4 separate regions of the Homo sapiens genome follow, and all the other regions are linked to region 2. Evidence: fine-mapped expression QTL. A gene starts in region 2. Each other region holds a variant in brackets. All regions are shown on one strand. Distances are from middle to middle. Region 1 overlaps CASP8 (caspase 8). Region 2 holds the start of PPIL3 (peptidylprolyl isomerase like 3). Region 3 overlaps HYCC2 (hyccin PI4KA lipid kinase complex subunit 2). Region 4 overlaps HYCC2 (hyccin PI4KA lipid kinase complex subunit 2).

Region 1 (2,764 bases), 370 kb after region 2:
GCAGAATGGATGTCTGTCAGGTTCCGGGGCAGCCCGCAGTCTGAGGCAGCCAGCCTGGATTGGAGGGAGTGGCAATACTACCTGCCGGTTAGGGGTTTGGGCCTGAGAGCGAGTGGCTTTCAGGTTCTCTCAAGCTTCGGATGAGATGCAGGTTTCTGCTTCCGATGGCAAATGCATGTTTTGCTTTTTAGTTATCACTGCAAGAGCTAGGATGCTGCTAGAATATTACTGGAATGATTGTGATGAGATGGAATGTATTTACAGTTTAATTGTGACATGTAATACAGTGGTAGAATGGGACTCTGGAATGAGATGCTGGGGCCTAGATTCTAGCACTTCCTTTGTGAGGCTCTAACCCCCTCTCCTATAGTGGATTTGTTAAGAACTTCTGTTTTTGTGGCTTTGTTATTATAAAATTTTTTGAAATGTTGTTCTCTAAAAAAGTTATGATTTTATGTTTTTCTTCATGAGATTCTTTCACTGCCTTCCAGCTGCAAGTAGAATGACGTCTAAATCTTTGTGATCTGTCACTGAAGCCCTTGAGTGAGACACTTAAATCTGGCTGTGGCTCTCTCTCTTACTAGCTTATTTCCAAGCCGTGATTTTTCACAACAGAAAAATGGGGACAGTAATAGTAGTTTCTTCAGAGGCTTTTAGTGAAATGAGGTTAAAAAATATTTTTATGTTTATATGGATATATAGATTACAAACATTTATATATCATTTATTTATATGATTATTATAAACACATATTTATATTTAAATACTTTGGGGCATAAATATATAAAATAATAAATATACTTATGTAATACAAATAGACTTATATACATTTACTATTTAGCAGAGATTATATAAAATATATGTATTACATGGCAACATATTCAAATTTACATATGTTATATATACATGTGGAAAAAAAATTGGGAAAAGGCCACAAAATGTGACCAAAGAATTACTTCCAAATGGCAAGTTTTTAAGTAATTTTTATTTTCTTTTTATACTTCTCTGTACTTTCTCTATGAAACAAGTGTTACTTTTACTGTTTTTAGGAACCAAAAATACAAGTACATTGTTTAAAAAATACTAGCTTAACAAAGTTTCTAGCCCATAAGCTAGTGCAGAAAATCTAGGTCCCATAAAACAAGAACTGCCACACGATGTCTCTCCCCTTACAGTGCTGGATGGCCCGTTGTTAATGGTGTCATAAATCCTTTGCAAGTGACTGTTTTCTAGGTACTATGACTAGAGGGATGTGTAACTTAAGCAAAAAACAAAAAACAGAAAAGGCTGACTATCATCTGACAGTGTATCCTGGAACACCTAGGCCAGAGAAGAAGCCACGTTAGCATTTTCCCTTCTAAATGTCAGTTATGATTTGATGGGGAAACCACTTAAAAAGCATTGTCACGTTGTTGAAAAGGTAATGAAATGAGTGAGATGAGATGGCTATGGAGGACGGAGCTATGC[G/A]CCAATCTTATTATATCCAAATTCATGTCATCTCAGCCTTGGATTGTATTGATTTTTATTATATACTGTCAGAAAATGCTATTGAATGTGTAACAAGAGCCTCAAAAAGGTTTATTCATTTTGACACCATAATACTACTTTTAGGAAATTATTCTAAGAAAATAATTAGAGGTATTCTTAAAGATTTGCGTTTTAAAGTCATCCTAAATGTAATCAGGAACTGGCTATGTAAATTATAGCCCATCTCTAAGATTAAGTGCCTTACAGATATTAAAACCCATGCTGTAGAAGAAAAACTAAAGACAGGAAAGTACTTACAATACAAGATGTACTTACCAGTGGAAAAATCCACTTATACTACAGAAATATGATGTGTTCAAATATAAGGAAAAATGTGTATGCATAAAATATTTGGTAGGAAAGAGTAAAATATTACTGGGCATTTATATTTGGATGGTGGAATTATACATAATTTTAATTTTCCTTTTTATCTTTTCTGTATTGTCTAAAATGAATACACTAAGCATTGTTATCCTCAGAAAAAAATAATTGAGGGATGGGGGAAAGGAAGTCCTGCTTTCATTTGATTCTTTGGTTGGTTTTATTCTGTAAGATGAGACTTTAACAGAGGTTAGAATGCATTAAAAATTGTAAAGACAGTTGACCTAATGGCACTAAACAGGGTTAGATCTAGTTTAGATCTTTTCCAGCATGTGAATAAGAATGGATCTTTAAATAAAGATTTTAACTAGGTATATGTTTTAGAATAAGTCATACATGTACATGGTAAAAATTCAAACAGTACAAACTGTGCAGCAAGGTATGGGAAATAAAGCAGCTCTCACTGTCACCTCCACCCATCAGCCTTCTCACACTGCACGCCCACATCTGTGTGTAATTCTGCTTTTCTTTAACATTACTGAAGGAACTTCCTGTGCATTTTTTGTCAGAGCTCTTCTGTGAATACACAAAATATGTACTGATCAATACATTATGTAGATCACGCAGGCTCAACCACATTGATCTTCCTATTCTTTCTAGTAGCCAAATAGAGTTCCCTGGAATATGATTAATAGCTTGCCTAAATCTTCTAATGCTGATAAACAGTTGTTTCTGCTCTTTCGTTATTTCAAGGAATGCTACCATGAATAGCCTTATATATGGTTTTGAGTATACTTGTTTAAGTGAATGTAGGAAAAACTCTTGGAAGTTAAATTGTGGGCCAGTTTATGTGAATTTTATATTTTGACAGAGATGGCTAAATTACCCACCTGTTTTTTTGTTTTGTTTTGGTTTT
Region 2 (2,500 bases):
GCCAACATGGCGAAACCCCGTCTCTACTAAAAACACAAAAATTAGCCGGGTGTGGTGGCAGGCGCCTGTAGTCCTAGCTACTCAGCAGGCTGCGGCAGGAGAATCACTTGAACCCAGGAGGCGGAGGCTGCAGTGAGCTGAGATCGCGCCACTGCACTCCAGCCTGGGTGACAGCGCGAGACTCCGTCAAAAAAAAAAAAAAAAAAAATCCTCTAATGGCATCCCCTAGGTAATAAAAACCCGGCTATAGAAGATATCCTACCCGATTCAAGCCTCCCAATCTCCTACTTGCCCGGCTTGCTCTTCTTCAAGAGCCTCCTTGCAAGTCCCCCAATAACCCAGATACCTTCCCTTAGGGTCCAGGCATTGGGTGTCCCTTTTGCCTGGAATTCTTATACTCAGACATCTCTACGGCTAATTTCCTCACCTCCAAATTTCTGCTTAAATGTCAAGTTTAACTGACCTGACAATCCTACACAGAACTGCTTTAGCCCTTCAGCCCTAGGACATTCCTATTTCCTTCTCCCACAGCACTTATCACTAATATACTATGAAATTCGCTTTTTTTTTTTTTCACCACAGCACTTATACTAATATACTATGAACTTTTTTTTTTCCACCACAGCACTTATCACTAATATACTATGAACTTCTCTTTTTTTTTCATTTTGAGACGGAGTCTCGCTATGTCGCCAGGCTGGAGTGCAGTGCGGCAGGATCTCGGCTCACTGCAACCTCCGCCTCCGCCTCCCGGGTTCAAGTGATTGTCGTGTCTCAGCCTCCCGAGTAGGTGGGACTACAGGCGCGCGCTACCATGCACGACTAATTTTTGTATTTTTAGTAGAGACGGGGTTTCGCCGTGTTGGCCAGGCTGGTCTCGAACTCCTGACTTCAGGTGATCCGCCCGCCTCGGCCTCCCGAAGTGCTGGGAGGCCGCCGTGCAGGGTCCTTCTTTTACTCTGACGTTGCAACAACAGCCTCGCCGCCCACTGTTCACTCGCAGTATCCCAAGAACTAAACCAGTAGCAACACAGAACTCAGCAAGCATTCGAATAAGTGAATGAAAGAATTAATGACGTTACTCCATACTTGGGCTTCACCACTTCGTCTAGCACAGCCGTTGTTAAAACAGGAAAAATGCAATCGCAGATGCCAGCAGAGGTCTGTTGGTTCAAAATTATAGTTTCTTTGGGCCAGCGGAAGTTGGGCGCGGGACCCAAGAGAGAGAACGCCCCTTACCGCCTCACCTCCTTCCTCCCCTCATCTTCCTATCTCAAACCAAAACGACAATGCAATTTATCCCCAACCGGAAATTTGACAGTGAAAGGGAGCTCTACTAATAATTGCACTGGGACAAGAAGTGTAAGGCGAAACTACCTGGGCAACCTCAAGCAATGCTTTACACTCGGCTGCCAAACGGAAAGGACCACTTCCGCCCAGCTCTCCCGCTACGGGGAGCCAAGTGCCACAGCATCCGGAGCGCCGACGCGGGACCGGAAGTGACGCAGAGAAGTTTCCGGGACTGGTGAGTAGTGGGCGATTTAAAAACCCGCGAGTGTAGTTGTGACCTTCGCGGTAGGTGCCGGTTGGGGCCGGCTGTGATTGTTATCTTGGTGCTGCAGAGGACAGCAGAAGAGGAGATTGGGTCAGAAAACTGCCCTGCCGCACCAGAGCACAGCGCACTAGTGGGACAGGGGTCCTGACTCAGACTTAACTGGCTGTGTCTCGTGGTTTTTCACTGTCCTGGAAAAGGCCTGAAGTGGCACTGAAATGAGGCATAGATGAGGTAACGTCGAGGGAGCGGTTTGCAGGTTGCAAAGGGGCCCTACTGATGCTGCTTAATAGTAAACAGTGCTTACTCTAGGACGGGAGTTGTTTCCAGCTTTACGTGTAAATCTCGCGATATTGTGGCCTGGGCACTATTTCCATTAAGGAGGAAACTGCACAGGATAAGTCATTTACCTGCTGTTGCACAGCTCTGGCTCTAGGATTCAGGCTGGCTTCAGAGTCGGTGCTCTTAACCGCCATACTATGTTGCCTTCTGTTGTCGTTGTTGACTGTGGCCATGTAGCTTCGCAGTTTCCTCATCTGTAACAGTAAATAACTCAAAACCTGCATGATGGCCCACTAGGGTTTCACTTTCGAGCTTGCCAGATGTAGAAAATGCTGGAGAATGGAGTACTATGAGGACCATTAGAAGATCTTTCAAGGCCGGACGCAGTGGCTCACCCCTGTAATCCCGGTACTCTTGGAGGCCGAGGCAGGTGGATCACTTGAGCGCAGGAGTTTGAGACCAGCCTGGGCAACATGGCGAATCCCCATCTCTACTAAAAATACAAAAATTAGCCAGGTGTGGTGTTTAGCGCCTGTAGTCCCAGCTGCTCAGGAGGCTGAGGTGGGAGGATCTGCTTGAGCTCAGGAAGTCGAGGCTGCAGTGAGCTGAGATCACGCCACTGCACTCCAGCCTAGGCGCCTAGTGAAACCCTGTGTCAAAAAGAAA
Region 3 (2,764 bases), 170 kb after region 2:
CACCAGATTTTACATGAGAGGAAACAAATCTCTCTTTTTCAAATTTTAAGCCTTTATTTGAAGGTTGGTTGTTACCACTACATAACCAAGTAATCCTGACTACAATGGTTGTAATGAGGTTAGAGCAGGCTCCAAAAGCACAAATAAGCTAGAAGAACAAATGGCTGAGACACCCATGGCACTTACTTCTACTAATCAACTCTTCCTTAATCTATGGCCTTGTAGAGTTCCCTAAGATCAAAGGAAAGAAGGAAAAAAAAAAACTTAGGCCTGGTTTATACATGGTTGCATACAGTCTGCTGGCATTGACCTTACAGAGAAGTAGCCCTACAGGACAGGAGAAAGGGAACTCCCAGTAGGCAAAACTTCAAACAGTATCTCGTTGTTCACTATACCTGAAGAGACCAAAGATATGGATCTATCGGTTTGGCTAAATGGCCTTTGTAACCAGTATTTGCTCAACAGGCACGTGAACAAAATGGTCTTGTCAGCAAGAATAGAAATTATACCCTGGCTCAACACAGACTTCCCCTCACCAATGCTGATCTACAATTTCACAATATGCCAGGCTGTCTCACACCTCACACATTTTCTTATGCTACATTCCTCTCTGGAATGCCTTTCAACTACCCTCTATCCTAACTACCCTCCCCTTCTTCCAACACTCAGACCAACAGTTGCCTCCTCTATGAATCTTTTCCATAGCATACAACCCTGCATCAATTCAAAGCCCTCTCCTTCCTCTTCACACAGAAGTTCTCAACATAGCGTCCACAGACCCCCAGGGATCTATAATAAAACTCATAAACTTTGATAAGAAGAAAATTGTATCACTTTTTACCAATCTCTAACTAACATTTATAATGTCATTAGATTGTGAGTATAGGCAAAACAATAAAACAACCAGCCATAATATTTTTGTGATTTGGTCACCAATAGAAATCACAGGTATTAGGCCCAGCACAGCGGCTCACGCCTGTAATCCCAGCACTTTGGGAAGCCAAGGCGGGTGGATCGCTTGAGGTCAGGAGACCAGCCTGGCCAACATGGTGAAACCCCGTCTCTACTAAAAATACAAAATTAGCCAGGCATCGTGGCGCATGCCTGTAGTCCCAGCTACCCAGGAAGGTGAAGCATGAGAATCACCTGAACCTGGGAGGTGGAGGTTGCAGTAATCCAAGATTGCACCATTGGCCTCCAGCCTGGGAAACAGGGCCAGACCCCATCTCAAGAAAAAAAAAGAAATCACAGAAATTTTCATATCGAATTACATTTGTTTCTTATCACTATGTCATGACACTTTTCTCTGGTCAGAGAGCTTCCATTCTACCCTGGATAAAAATGTTTCCAATCTCATCTCCATATATTTAGCTAAACATTTTTCTGGGTGTTTCCATATGAGATTAACATTTAAATCTATAGACTGAGTAAAGCAGA[C/T]TGCCTTTCCTAATGTGGTGGATGTCATTTAATCAGTGGAAAGCCTGAACAGACAAAAAGGCTAAGCCTCCCCCAAGTAGAGAGTCAGTTCCTCCTGCCTAAGGACATTGGCTTTCTCCAGCCTTCAAACTCAAACTGAAACATTAGCTCTTCAGAGTCTCAAGCCTGAGTGACTGCTACTATGTTATCTCTGGTTCTCAGGACTTTGGACTGTGTCTGACTGGAACTATACAGTCAGGTCTCCTGAGTCTCCAGCTTGCCAACTACCCTGCAGATCTCGGGACTTGTCAGCCTCCTAAATTGTGTAAGCCAATTCCTATAATAAACCTTATAATAAATCACACACAACCTTATTGGTTCTGTTTCTCTGGAAAACCCTGATGAATATAGTTCCTGACTTGTTCAGAATGACCTAAGGATATATGCAGAATCCATCTCTTATACCTCTCAGAACAGGAATCCAAGTTATAGATGGGAATGCCTGGCCCTGGTATCAGGCATTCCATTACCATGTCTTCTTCAGTAGAACAGGGGCATATAAGTGAGATTGGTGGCTAGGCAGATACCCAACCAAAGAGCAAATGTAAATCTCTCTTCTTAATGACAGAGAGTGACTCTTTCAGGACCTCCTTATCTTGACTTTTGGGAAGGAAAAAACCCTTTCCTTTCCCCTCACAGAGCAGGGAATAGTTTCTTTCCATTAATACTCCCCTTCCAAAGAAGGCCTCTCCCCTTCTCCCTCTTAAGCCTCATAAATTGATGGGGTGGGCAGAATCATAGTCACAACAGCCCATAGTACTCAACATCTTATGTTGTCAAAGACCTGTGTGCAGGTTGAAGAGCCCTCTTATTGACTGGGTGCAGTGGCTCATGCCTGTAATCCTCGCACTTTGGGAGGCCGAGGCGGGTGGATCACCTGAGGTCAAAAGTTGAAGACCAGCCTGGCCAACATGGTGAAACCCCGTCTCTACTAAAAATACAAAAATTAGCCAGCGTAGTGGCACATGCCTGTAATCCCAGCTACTTGGGAGGCTGAGGTGGAGAATCACTTGAACCCGGGAGGCGGAGGTTGCAGTGAGCCGAGATTGCGCCACTGCTCTCCAGCCTAGGCAACAACAGCAAAACTCTGTCTAAAAAAAAAGCGGGGGGGGGGGGGTTCTTCTTACTAAACCACAACTTTTCTGGGGCAGGGAGTATGCCTCACTTGCATTTGCATTTCCGGTTCTTAACAGGACCTAGTACATAGTTAGCACTTAATTCATGTCTATTGAATGAAGAGCTTAACAGCACTACTAGGCGGTCAGCAGCAGATACAGTATAGAAGATA
Region 4 (2,500 bases), 110 kb after region 2:
TGAAGATTAGTAATAATCACTCTTCTCACCTGGAACCCATCCGACAAAGAGATTGGTAAGATGAGGCAGGCATATATACAATAGCAGAATTATAACACAGCATGAGAAAACTCAGGACTTCAAACCTAAAAACAACAAATGCAAGGTTAAAAGGATTACAAATAATTACTTCTACTAGCAACTGGTTATGACAATGCCTTAATATTGACCTTTATGATTTCTTAATCAAATCAATATAGCATCTTCCTCAAAGGTTTCCCTGTTTATATTCTCCTTATTACAAATCATAACCCTTGCTGTCATCTTGTCATCTATATTTCCGTTTTTAAAAAATAAATCAGGCCAGGTGCAGGGGCTCATGCCTGTAATCCCAGCACTTTGGGAGGCCGAAGTGGGTGGATCACAAGGTCAGAAGATCGAGACCATCCTGGCTAACACGGTGAAACCCCGTCTCTATTAAAAATACAAAAATTAGGCAGGTGTGGTGGCACATGCCTGTAGTCCCAGCTACTCAGAAGGCTGAGGCAGGAGAATTGCTTGAACCCGGGAGGCGGAGGTTGCAGTGAGCCGAGACTGTGCCACTGCACTCCAGCCCGGGCAACAGAGTGAGACTCCATCTCAAAAAATCAATCAATCAATCAATCATGCTTGAACAGATGACTCCCCTATGAATAAGTCTACCATCTTCCTACTGACTTCATAATAAAATCCAAACTTATCACAAGGTCCTTTAAAATCAAAGTCCTTCTTACAAGGTACTTTAAAATCCACCCTCATCCTTCCTCTCCAGCCTTATTTCTCTCCATTACCAACCACATATACCACACTTTATCAATCTTCTTACCATTCCAACAATATGCTGTAACCATTCAGAATCCCTTGCTTTAATGCTTGCTGCTCCTTCTTAATAGAATATGCTTTTTTACTTGGGTGATTCCTGATAAGATTTCAAGTCCTAGATCAAATTTTTACCTTAGCCATAAAGCCCTTCTTAATTCTCTCTGCTAAAGTAAACCAGTCCCTTACCTCTGTAGCTCTAACATAGCATTTATCCCACTGAATTGTAATTTTACGCCTCTATGTCTCTTTCACCCGTTTAGTAATAAAGCAACTTTAGAACAGAGATCCTGATTTATTAATCTCTATCATTGGTGTCCAGCA[C/T]GGTGTCTAATACATAATTGTTTAATAAATACTTGTTGAATGAATAAATAAATGCTTTCCTAACATTTATAATGTCTAAGAAAGTGGCTCCTAAATCTGGATGCACATTAGTTATTTAGAGACCTTTTTAAAAACATACACTTCTATGTCTTAACCCAGTTGACCCACTTAAATCCTCGGGTAGGAACTAGGGAAGTTGTACCTCTAAAAAGCTTCCCATAGATGAATGGTGAAGGGTTTATGGAAACTCTTTGTACTATTTTAGCAATGTTTTTTGTAAGTCTGAAGTTATTTCAAAATGAAAAGTTAAAAATCAAGCTGAAAGTCTGATCTGGAAGCAGCCATACTTTCAGATCCCTTCACTTTCTCCATATATCTAGGTAAAAGAATGGAGATTTATTCTCTGAAAGGATAAAAACTAATTTCTACCTGGGAGCCCTAGCTGTGATGGGGGTGGATGCCAAACTGAAAATAGGAAGATTAAGTGAAGTGAAATATACCTGCCTAGATATTGCCAGTTTGCCACCAAAATACTAGCAAAAAGATCTCTAGTTAAGATACCAGAAGAGTTGTTTCTAGGGAATTTGACCACTCTAAGAAGAAAGACTTAAAGATATGGACTTGGGAAATTTTCCAAATGAATGGCCTAGTGGGATCCTATGGTGAAGTTTATAGTCAGTTACTAAGTTGGTGCAAAACTTTAAAAAAAATTTTTTAAATGGCAAAACCACAATAACTTTTGCACCAATACTAGCTCAAATCAGCCATATATTAACATGGTCAGAGCTTCTCATTTTTTATTCCCTCTCCCCACTTTTTTTTTTTTGAGACAGAGTCTCGGTCTTGTCACCCAGGCTGAAGTATAATGGCATGATCTCGGCTCACTGCAACCTCCGCCTCCCAGGTTCAAGCCATTCTCTTGCCTCAGCCTCCCAAGTAGCTGGGATTACAGGTGCCCACCACTACACTTGGCTAATTTTTTTTTGTATTTTTAGTAGCGACAGGGTTTCACTATTTTGGCCAGGCTGGTCTCGAACTCCTGACCTCAGGTGATCTGCCTGCCTCGGCCTCCCAAAGTGCTGGGATTACAGGCGTGAGCCACCGCACCCAGCCTATTCCCCTATTCTTAAACATGAGGGAAAAAAGGTTGCCAGACATCTAAGGAACTCTACTAGGATGAAAAAGAGACTATAAAGAAATAGAAGGGCTGGGCGCAGTGGCTCACATCTGTAATCCCAGCACATTGGGAGGCCGAGGCGGATCATACAGTCAGGAGTTCGAGACCAGCCTGGCCAACATAGTGAAACCCCATCTCTACTAAAAATACAAAAATTAGCTG

Evidence for each region. PIP is the estimated chance that this variant, and not a neighbour inherited with it, causes the effect.
Region 1: its variant is the best candidate, but not a certain one, in a credible set for the expression of PPIL3 in stomach (GTEx, PIP 0.66).
Region 3: its variant is the best candidate, but not a certain one, in a credible set for the expression of PPIL3 in uterus (GTEx, PIP 0.51).
Region 4: its variant is the best candidate, but not a certain one, in a credible set for the expression of PPIL3 in fibroblasts (GTEx, PIP 0.69).

Annotation. Positions count from the first base shown.
Region 1 is chr2:201,261,632-201,264,395 of GRCh38, forward strand. The region is part of intron 1 of CASP8 (caspase 8); the gene reads left to right. Among named protein-coding and RNA genes, the nearest start is that of CASP8, 2.5 kb to the left of the region's middle. The variant G/A (reference allele first, on the strand shown) is at 1,468.
Region 2 is chr2:200,887,867-200,890,366 of GRCh38, forward strand. It overlaps PPIL3 (peptidylprolyl isomerase like 3), which reads right to left and starts at 1,211. Exons shown (of 7, transcript NM_130906.3): 1 at 1,090-1,211. NIF3L1 (NGG1 interacting factor 3 like 1) reads left to right here and starts at 1,505. Exons shown (of 7, transcript NM_001369441.2): 1 at 1,505-1,786. RefSeq lists enhancers at 291-1,035, 729-778, 847-2,046, 899-1,148, 1,036-1,780 and 1 more.
Region 3 is chr2:201,057,475-201,060,238 of GRCh38, forward strand. All of the region lies in intron 1 of HYCC2 (hyccin PI4KA lipid kinase complex subunit 2), which reads right to left. Among named protein-coding and RNA genes, the nearest start is that of HYCC2, 13 kb to the right of the region's middle. The variant C/T (reference allele first, on the strand shown) is at 1,438.
Region 4 is chr2:200,997,416-200,999,915 of GRCh38, forward strand. It overlaps HYCC2 (hyccin PI4KA lipid kinase complex subunit 2), which reads right to left. Exons shown (of 13, transcript NM_001321623.1): 8 at 30-125. All of the region lies in intron 1 of LOC105373835 (a long non-coding RNA gene), which reads left to right. Among named protein-coding and RNA genes, the nearest start is that of ORC2, 35 kb to the left of the region's middle. The variant C/T (reference allele first, on the strand shown) is at 1,162.